3 linked regions of the Homo sapiens genome follow. The protein of the gene in region 3 interacts with the protein of the main gene of each other region in a pairwise test. Each region holds a gene or a part of one and is shown on either strand. Other genes may lie near its edges.

Region 1 (3,752 bases), on a different chromosome or scaffold from region 3:
CTGCTCCCCCAGGCCCCAGCCGAGGGAAGCCAGGGGGGAAAGATGGGATGGGGGGGCAGATTGATCCTTCCTCCCTCTTCCCTTCCCGCCCCCCAGCCCCAGCATCCTTCAGAACCATTTTACCCCGCCCCCCAGCTCAGAGGACGTAGCCCTCCGCCCAGTAATCGGGATCAGTGTCCAGCCCTTCACTGCCATCCAGCACAGGGACCCTGGCGTCCCAACCTTAGGGACCCGGACGAGCTCTAGCCCCCTCCCCCACCTGCAGGCTGCTGGGTTTCCCGGGCCCTTCAGGAGGGGAAGGGGCGGCTGCAGCGCCCCCAGCCCCCTTTTCTCAATGGGATGGGATTTTGTGAATGAGCAGTCACGTGACGCTGCTTCCTTTGTCCGCCCGCCTCCCCCGACAACAGGTGAAGCAGGGAATGAGAGCAGGGGTCCCCCCAGGGCCTAGCTGGAATGGGGCACTGGCATTTCAGGGTGGCCTACGCTCCCCACACATCCTGTGTCCCCCGGGGGGAGTGGTCCTCAGCGTTCCTCAACGGTGAGGGTCCAGGACGGAATTTTGTGAATGGGGCATCCTCGGAGAAAGTCCAGACCCCACAAATGAAGACTGGTACCCTGAATGGCTGCCGCGCAGTTTGGGGGGTCCCCACTCTCTAGTCCTCCTAGCCGGGGCCTTGGGGGCGCCTGGGTGGGCAGAAGGCGCAGCGCGGTCACGGCCGCCCCCTCATCGGGGCAGGCAGTCTGTCAGCCCCCGCCCCCTCGCCCCCCTCGGCACCTGCCTGCGAGGCTCCGGCCGGGCTCCGAGCGGCGGCGACGCGGCCTCCTCCTCCTCCTTTTCGTTCCGGCTCCCTGGCTGGCTCCGGCGGCGCTGGAGACGGGCACCGGGAGCCGGGGCGAGGGGGGAGGGAGGGGGAACCTGGAAGACGGGTGGGGGGGGAAGGGGCGGCTTGGGGGAGGGGTAAGAGCGAGGCGGGCTTACTTGCCTGCTGGGTCCTAGAGCCCGGCACTAGCTCCAGAGAGCAACCCCCCAGCCCCCATTTTCTTAAGATCCAGAGGGGATCCCCCACTTTTCCACCCATCTGCGCCATTGGTCTCTAATGCTATGAGGAGGGGACGGGGCAGGGACAGGGACTGGTCTCAAGGTTCTAAAGAGGTGGTGGTCTACGCTGTGGCTTGGGTGCCTGGCAGAGTTCGATAAGGGGTGGGGCGAGAGGGGAGCCTTCACAAGTGGGTGGGGTTGGAGGGCCTGGGTATAAGGAGGTTTGGATGCTGCAGGCGAGGACTAGTGCGTGCGTCACGAAGGGGCGGGCCCACGGTGGATGGGCCTTCTCGGCGCCCGGGGGGAAGGAGAGGGTCTTGAGAAGCGATGTTGCCGGGTCTTAAAAAGGCGGAGCTTAGAGGTAAATTGCCTTAGGGGCGGGGCAGATGAGAGGTCCAAAGGGGAGGAGCGACGCATCGGTGTTCGCGTGGGCGGGGCCTCGGGAGGGAATGAGAGGGGCGGGACATTCTAAAGGGGAGGGGCTAAGGAGAACAACCCAAAGGGGTGGAGCTTAGAACCAGAAGGCCTGGGGGCGAGGAACAAGACCTCGGAGTATTTCAAGGGGAGACCTAGGTTCGTAAGGGGCCGGGCTCCCGCGGGCTCGCAGGAGGGCGGGGCCTCGAGCTCCGGGGGCGGGGCCTACATCTCGGGGTCCGCCCTAGTTGTCTCGCCCACTTGCCTTCACCCGCACCCCCGTTCTTTTCGGTTATTTTCTGCTACGGCAGTTCCCTGCCCTGCCCCGGGCCCAGGGCGCCGCGGTCTGAACTCTGCTCGGCTGGAGGACTCGGTGAGTGGGTTCCTCTGGGGGGAGGCGGGGCCAGGGCGGAGCTTGGGGACAGGGGTGGAGCTTGACTGTGGATGCCAGCTAGTAGACCTGGAGCGGGAAGAGGTTTAGGGGTGAGGCCTGAGGATCTGCCCCTGCCTGGGAAGAGGGCGGGACCCAGGTGCTCTAGAGAGAGGCGGGGAGTCGGAGAGTTAGAGGAGAGGACTGAGGGATCAGCATGACCAGCCAAGGGGACAGGCATGGAACCTTAGTACATAATGGGGCTGGTAGTGAAGTATCTTAACAGCAGCTGTGTTGGGGACATGGGCAAGAAGGCGTGAGTGTCGAAGGTCGGGGAACAGGAGTGCGACCTAAGGACTTGGGCCTGATCGGATCTTGGAGAACAGGGGCGGGGCCGGTGCGGACGCATTAGATCAAGTACAGCCAGCCTCGTAGGGTCCCCACGGCCCTGGCAGGCTGACTGGAGTAAATTTTTCTGACTAGTCTCCGAGCTCCGTCAGAAATGGGGAACTTGCAGTCGGAGCCATCCGCGGGCGGGGGCTCCCGAAAAGTGCAGCCCTCGGACCGCGCCCCCGACTCCCGCCGGACGTCCCTGGTGGAGCCCGAGATGACCTCCCAGGCCATGCGCCTGACTCGTGGGCTGGGTGTCTGGTTCCCTGGCAGCGCCACACCCCCGGGACTCATGGTACCCCGGGAGCCCCAGGCCTCACCCTCGACCCTGCCCCTCACCTTAGAACGGCCCTCTCCAGTGATGCCCCCTCCTGAAGAGGCGGCCGCGGTCTCTGCACCACCCCCGGCCCCCGCGGGGACTCTGCTGCCCGGCCCGTCTAAATGGCAAAAGCCCGCGGGCACTCCAGTTCCCCGGATCCGCCGCCTGCTGGAGGCGAGCCATCGCGGCCAGGGCGACCCTCCGAGCCTCCGCCCGCTGAAGCCGCCGCCGCCGCCCCGGCAACTATCCGTGAAGGACACTGTCCCGAGGGCCCCATCCCAATTTCCGCCGCCCCTGGAGACTTGGAAGCCGCCACCACCATTACCTTCTGAACGGCAGCCGGCGGACCGCAGAATCACTCCTGCTCTGGCCACACCCGCCTCACCCCCGACAGAAAGCCAGGCTGGGCCCCGCAACCAGGGCCAGACGGCCGGCAGGGCTCGCGGAGGGGCGCCTCCCCATGCGGGCGAAGGCGAAATGGCCCAGCCTGCGGATTCCGAGTCCGGTCTGAGCCTGCTGTGTAAAATCACCTTCAAGTCGAGGCCCTCTTTGGCCCCTCCGGCAGCCTCGAGTTCCTTAGCAGCCAAAGCTTCGCTGGGGGGCGGCGGAGGCGGCGGCCTCTTTGCTGCCTCAGGTGCCATCTCTTACGCCGAGGTCCTGAAGCAAGGGCCCCTGCCTCCTGGAGCCGCTCGCCCCTTGGGAGAGGTTTCTCGAGGGGCACAGGAAGCCGAGGGAGGTGATGGAGACGGCGAAGGGTGCTCTGGTCCTCCCTCGGCGCCTGCGTCCCAAGCCCGGGCCCTACCGCCGCCACCCTACACCACCTTCCCAGGCTCGAAGCCCAAATTCGACTGGGTTAGCGCTCCCGACGGCCCTGAACGCCACTTCCGCTTCAACGGGGCTGGCGGAGGCATCGGGGCGCCGCGACGGCGTGCGGCCGCACTCTCTGGGCCTTGGGGCTCCCCTCCGCCACCACCAGAGCAGATACACTCAGCTCCCGGGCCCCGGAGGCCCGCACCTGCCCTGCTGGCGCCGCCTACGTTCATCTTCCCAGCACCCACCAATGGCGAGCCCATGCGCCCGGGGCCTCCAGGCCTGCAGGAGTTACCACCGCTGCCACCGCCCACACCGCCGCCCACACTGCAGCCACCAGCGCTCCAGCCAACGCCGCTGCCGGTGGCTCCCCCGCTCACCCCGGGTCTGGGCCACAAGGAGTCAGCCCT
Region 2 (2,762 bases), on a different chromosome or scaffold from region 3:
AGCCTTTGATCGCCCAAGTTTATTTCAGATACATGAAAGAACTCACACTGGAGAGAAACCCTATGAATGTCAGGAATGTGCAAAAGCTTTCATTTCTCTTCCAAGTTTTCAAAGACACATGATTAGGCACACTGGAGATGGACCTTATAAATGTCAGGAATGTGGAAAAGCCTTTGACCGCCCCAGTTTATTTCGAATACATGAAAGAACTCATACTGGAGAGAAACCCCATGAATGTAAACAGTGTGGGAAGGCCTTCATTTCTTTCACAAATTTTCAAAGTCATATGATTAGGCACACTGGGGATGGACCTTATAAATGTAAAGTATGTGGGAGAGCCTTTATTTTTCCCAGTTATGTTCGAAAGCATGAAAGAACTCATACTGGGGAGAAACCCTATGAATGTAATAAATGTGGTAAAACCTTCAGTTCTTCCAGTAATGTTCGAACACATGAAAGGACTCACACTGGAGAGAAGCCCTATGAATGTAAGGAATGCGGGAAAGCCTTCATTTCTCTCCCAAGTGTCCGAAGACACATGATAAAGCACACTGGAGATGGACCTTATAAATGTCAGGTATGTGGTAGAGCCTTTGACTGTCCCAGTTCATTTCAAATACACGAAAGAACTCACACTGGAGAGAAACCCTATGAATGTCAGGTATGTGGGAAAGCCTTCATTTCTCTTAAAAGGATTAGAAAACATATGATACTGCACACTGGAGATGGACCTTATAAATGTCAGGTATGTGGTAAAGCCTTTGACTGTCCTAGTTCTGTCCGAACACATGAAAGAACTCATACTGGAGAAAAACCCTATGAATGTAAAGAATGTGGGAAAGCATTCAATTATGCCAGTTCCATTAGAATACATGAAAGAACTCATACCGGAGAAAAACCCTATGAATGTAAGCAATGTGGAAAAACGTTCAGTTATTCCAGTTCCTTTCAAAGACATGAAAGAGCTCATAATGGAGATAAACCTTACGTAAAGAATGTGGGAAAGCTTTCATTTATCACACAACCTTCGAATACCTGTGAAAATGAATAGTGGAGGACAGGTCTACAAGTATCTACATATCTAAAGAATATGGAAAGTCTTCAGTTTGCTTTCTGGGTTTCAGACTTGTTTGGGAGCTCACCCCTTTCTCCTGTTTCTCACTTTTGGAATAGGAATCTCTATCCTGTGCCTGTCTCATATTTTGGAAATACATGACTAGTTTGGTTTTCACCGGTTCGGAGCTGAAGAAGAATTTTGCCTCAGCATGAATTGAGTCTCATCCATATCTGAGTGATGTGATATTGAGATGACACTTTGGAGTTTGAGTTTAAACATTAGGCTTCATGCTGGAATTAACTGAGACTTTTGAGGCCTTTGGGATGAGATGAATATATTTTACATGTGATGACATGGATTTTGGGGGCCAGAGGTGTAATGTTTTGGCTGAGTGTATGCCACCTCAGATTCATATGTTGAAACCTTACCCCCGTGCCCCCCCTCTCCCCCACAATGTGATGGTATTTGGAGGCCCTGTCTCTGGTGGTTTTTAGGATTGGAGGACATCATGAAGATGGAGGCCTTGTAATTGGGATTAGTTTCCTGATAGGAATCCCTAGAGAGCTAGCTTTGCCCTTCACCATGAGAGGGTGCAGTGAGAAGATAGCTATCTTTGAACCGGGAAGCAGGCCCTTACCAGACATGGACTATGCCAGTGCCTTGATATTGGACTTCCCAGCCTCCCAAACCATGAGAAATAAATGTTTGTTGATTAATTAAGCTTTCCAATTTATGGTATTTTGTTTTAGCAACCCAAGCTAAGACACAATCCAATTTTAAAATGGAGGAAAGGACTTGAATAGACATTTCTCCAAAGAAGATACCCAGATGGCCAATAAGCACGTAACAATGCTCGACATCTTTAGTCATTAGGGAAATACAAATCAAACTCAAGACATACATAGCATCTCATTAGGATTAGTAGTATCAAAGATGGAAAACAAGAAATACTGTCAAGGATGTGGAATGTTGGAGAACATTGTGCACTATCACTGGGAATGTACAGTGGTATAAGCCTGCTGAAAACAGTATGGCAGATCCCCAGATTAAAATATAGAAATAACATATGATCAGCATTTCCATTTCTGGGAAAATAAAAAGATTGAAAGCAGGGCCGGGCGTGGTGGATCACGCTTGTAATCCCAGCACTTTGGGAGGCCGAAGCAGGCGGATCACAAGGTCAGGAGATTGAGACCATCCTGGCTAACATGATGAAACCCCGTCTCTACTAAAAAAAAATTAGCCGGGCGTGGTGGCAGGCGCCTGTAGTCCCAACTGCTCGGGAGGCTGAGGCAGGAGAATGGCATGAACCCGGGAGGCAGAGCTTGCAGTGAGCTGAGGTCGCGCCACTGCACTCCAGCCTGGGTGAGAGAGCAAGACTCCGTCTCAAAAAACAAAACAAAACAAAAAAGATTGAAAGCAAAGTCTCAAATAGGTTTTGTACACCTGTGTACATAGCATCATTCACAATAGGTAAACTCTGGAAACTACTCAGGTTTTCATCAACAGATGAATAAACAAAAGGAAGTTTATACATACAAGAGAATATTACTGAGTCTTACAAAGTAAGGAAATTTACAAATATGCTGCAAGATGAACCTTGACGTGCTAAGTGAAATGGGCCATTCATGTAAAGACAATACGGTATGATTCTACTTATATCAGGTATCTAGAGTAGTCATATTGATAGAAAAAGTACAATACC
Region 3 (3,652 bases):
TACATCTAACCAAGGGAGTGAAAGATCTCTTCAAGAAGAACTACAGAACACTGCTGAAAGAAGTATCATAGATGACACAACTGGAAAAACATTCATGTTCATGGACTGGAAGAATCAATATCATGAAAATGTCCAAACTGCCCAAAGCAATCTACAGATTCAATGCTATTGCTATTAAATTACCAACATCATTTTTCATAGAATTAGAACAAACTCTTCTAAAATTCTTATAGAACCAAAAAAGAGCCCAAATAGCCAAAGCAACGCTAAGAAAAAAGAACAAAGCTAGAGCCATCACACTGCCCACCTTCAAACTATACTACCAGGCTACACTAACTAAAACAGCATAACACTGGTACAAAAATAAACACATAGACCAATGGAACAGAATACAGAACCCAGAAATTAAAGCTGCACACATACAGCCAATTGACCTTTGACAACATTGACAAAAATAAGCAATGAGGAAAGGACTCCCTGTTCAATAAATGGTGCTGGGAAAAATAGCTAACCATATGTAAACGAATGAAACTGGACCACTACCTCTAACCACAGATAAAAATTAACTCAAGATGGATTAAGGACTTAAATGTAAGACCTCAAACTATAAAAGTCCTAGAACAAAATCTAGGAAATAGTCTTCTGGATATCGGCCTAGGCAAAGAATTTGACTGAGTCCTCAAAAGCAATTGCAACAAAACCGAAAATTGACAATTGGGACATAATTAAAATAAAGAGCTTCTCCACAGCAAAAAAAACTATCAACAGAGTAAACAGACAACCTACAGAATGGGAGAAAATATTCGCAAACTATGGATCCAACAAAAGTCTAATATCCAGAATCTATAGGGAAGTTAAGTTAAACAAATCAACAAGAAAAAACACACAACCTCATTAAAAAGCAGGCAAAGGGCAAGAACAGACACTTCTTAAAAGAAAACATATAAGCAGCCAACGAAACATGAAAAAATGCCCAACATCACTAGTCATCAGGGAAACGCAAATCAAAACCACAATGAGGTACTATCTCACACCAGTCAAAATGGCTATTACTAGAAAGTCAAAAAACATCATGTTGGCAAAACCACTGAAAAAAGGGAACTCGTATACACTGTTGGTGGGAATGTAAATTAATTCAGCACCTATGGAAAGCAGTCTGGAGATTTCTCAAAGAACTAAAAACAGACCTAGCATTCAACCCAGCAATCCCATTACTTGGTAAATAGCCAAAGGAAAATAAAATTGTTCTACCAAAAAGACACCTGCCCTTATAAGTTTATCACAGCACTGCTCACAATAGCAAAGATAAGTGGTGGCTCATGCCTGAAATCCCAGCACTTTGGGAGGCTGAGGTGAAAGGATCACTTGAGTTCAGGAGTTCAAGACTATCCTGGGCAAGAAAGTGAGACCCCTATCGCTACCAAAAAAAAAAAAATTTTTTTTAATTAGCCAGGCATGATGTCACATGCCTGTAATCCCAAGTACTTGGGAGGCCGAGGCAGAAGGATTGCTTGAGCCCAGGATTTTCAGACTGCAGTGAGATAAGATAGCACCACTGCATGCCAGTGTGAATGGAACAGCCAGACCCTGTCTCAAAAACAAAACTAAACAAAACAAAAATAGCAAAGACATAGAATCAACCCAGGTGTCCATCAACAGTGGATTGGATAAAGAAAATGTGGTACATACAAGCCATGGAATACTTCGCAGCCAGAAAGAAAGACCACCACCATGTCCTTTGCAGCAACATGGATGCAGCTGGAGGCTGCCTCCACTTATCTTAAGTGAATTAATCCAGAAGTAGAAAACCAAATATTGCATGTTCTCATTTATAAGTGGGAGCTAAACCCTTGGTATACGCGGACATAAAGATGGGAACAAGAGACACTGGAGACTCCAAAAGGAGAGAGGGAGGGAGAGGAACAAGGACTGAAAAATCTCCTATTGGGTACTATATCTACTATCTGAGTGACAGATTCAACAGAAGCCCAAACCTTGGCATCACGCAATATACTCTTGTAACAAACCTGCACATGTACCCCCTGAATCTAAAATTTAAATTTAAATTTTTTTAAAAAATGGGCAACTAGGAAAAAAATAACCCCTATCTCTGGGTCTAAGGTACTAACTGCTGAAAATGAGTGACCTTCGATCATGAAAGTGGCAGTGAAAGTGTAGTTCCCCAGAGAGAGGCAAGCTATACACAAGGCAGGGGGAGGCCAGGAAGAAAAGAGGCTGATTTATAGTATGAGAAAGGTCTTGGGGCTCCAGAGGACTCAAGGGTGGGCGTTAGTGAAGTGGGGGAGGTGAAAAGAGGGGAGAAGAGTGCCTTGGAGATGTGGTGAGACGGAACAAGCCATGAGCATGTTGGAAGGCAGCCAAAGATCCCAGGGGGAAGGCCCCTCTCAGGCTGGTGCATGCTGAGATCCCGAGTCAGGATAGAGGGTAAACACGCGGCTTTGCTCAGTGGCCAAATGGAAGACTGCCAAGAAAGTCAGTGAATGGCTCTGAAGGCAATTCTCCCCATCTCCCACTGCAATCAACAAGAGCTCACCAGGACCCAAAGGCACAGAGCTCCAGGGACTGGAACCGGAGAGGCTAGAAGTGACCCAGCCCTCACACACAGCTTTGCCTTGGAAGTTGAAGGGGGACTTTAGCTGGCCCATAAATATGGACCTTGTACAGACCACAGAAGCAAAAGAGGCAATGGATTAGTATCCAGAACACACAAAGACCTACAGCAGATCACTAAGAAAAATGCAGCCCAACAGGAAAGTGGGCACAAGACACAGACAGGTGACTCAAAGGAAAAACTGGAATGGTACAAACATGTGAAGAGCCTCAACCTCACTGGCAATCTAAATCTGAAGGAAGGGAGAGAAGGACAAAGACAGACAGATGATAGGTGGATGATAAAAATACTCTTTAAGGCCAGGTCCAGTGGCTCACGCTGTAATCCCAACATTCTGGGAGGCTGAGGCAGGTGGATCACTTGAGCTTAGGAGTTTGAGACAAGCCTGGGCAACAAGGTGAGACCCTGTCTCTACAAAAAATACCAAAAAAAAAAAAAAAATTAGCTGCGCATGGTGGCGTGCAGAGTAGCTGGGACCCCAGTTACTTGGGAGGCTGGGATGGGAGGATCACTTGAGCCCCAGAGGTCGCGGCTGCAGTGAGCCGTGATTGCACCACTGCACTCCAGCCTGGGTAACACAGCAAGACCCTGTCTCTCCCCCTCTTCCCCCGGCACCTCTCTCTCCATATACACATATATTTTTTCTCTTTAGAGGAATATAATAAATAGCAAAGTGCTGACAAGGACGTGGGAAACACGAACACTGACATGGTGCAGGTAGAAATGTACACTATGGTGACCAATTTGGCAGTATCTTATCAAATTGAAAATGTCCATGTACTACTTCTCAAATATTTCCTCTGGGAAAACTCCTGGAGAACTCTCAGACAGGTTAGCAAAGAGTTTATCAAGGATGCTCACTACGGCATTATATTTGTCAAGTAAAACCCGAAAGTAACTTAAATGCCCATCAGTCAGGGAAGGATAATCCAAATATTACATCTCCTTTGATGCAAGGTACTTAAAAGGAATGAACTAGATCCACAAGCAATTTGTAAAATTATACCCCCAAACAAAACC

Evidence for each region.
Region 1: the proteins of HSF2BP (region 3) and GGN interact in binary tests that used the Homo sapiens proteins (3 or more experiments, as listed by UniProt).
Region 2: the proteins of HSF2BP (region 3) and ZNF564 interact in binary tests that used the Homo sapiens proteins (3 or more experiments, as listed by UniProt).

Annotation. Positions count from the first base shown.
Region 1 is NC_000019.10:38,385,835-38,389,586, reverse strand, and holds the start of GGN (gametogenetin), read left to right. Parts: upstream 1-1,552; 5' UTR 1,553-1,612; intron 1,613-1,737; exon of another isoform or gene 1,738-1,764; 5' UTR 1,765-1,826; intron 1,827-2,306; 5' UTR 2,307-2,325; coding exon 2,326-3,752. UniProt on the Homo sapiens protein: May be involved in spermatogenesis.
Region 2 is NC_000019.10:12,524,735-12,527,496, reverse strand, and holds the end of ZNF564 (zinc finger protein 564), read left to right. Parts: coding exon 1-1,051; 3' UTR 1,052-2,124; downstream 2,125-2,762.
Region 3 is NC_000021.9:43,607,379-43,611,030, forward strand, and holds part of HSF2BP (heat shock factor 2-binding protein), read right to left. Parts: intron 2,612-3,652; exon of another isoform or gene 2,509-2,611; intron 1-2,508. UniProt on the Homo sapiens protein: Meiotic recombination factor component of recombination bridges involved in meiotic double-strand break repair.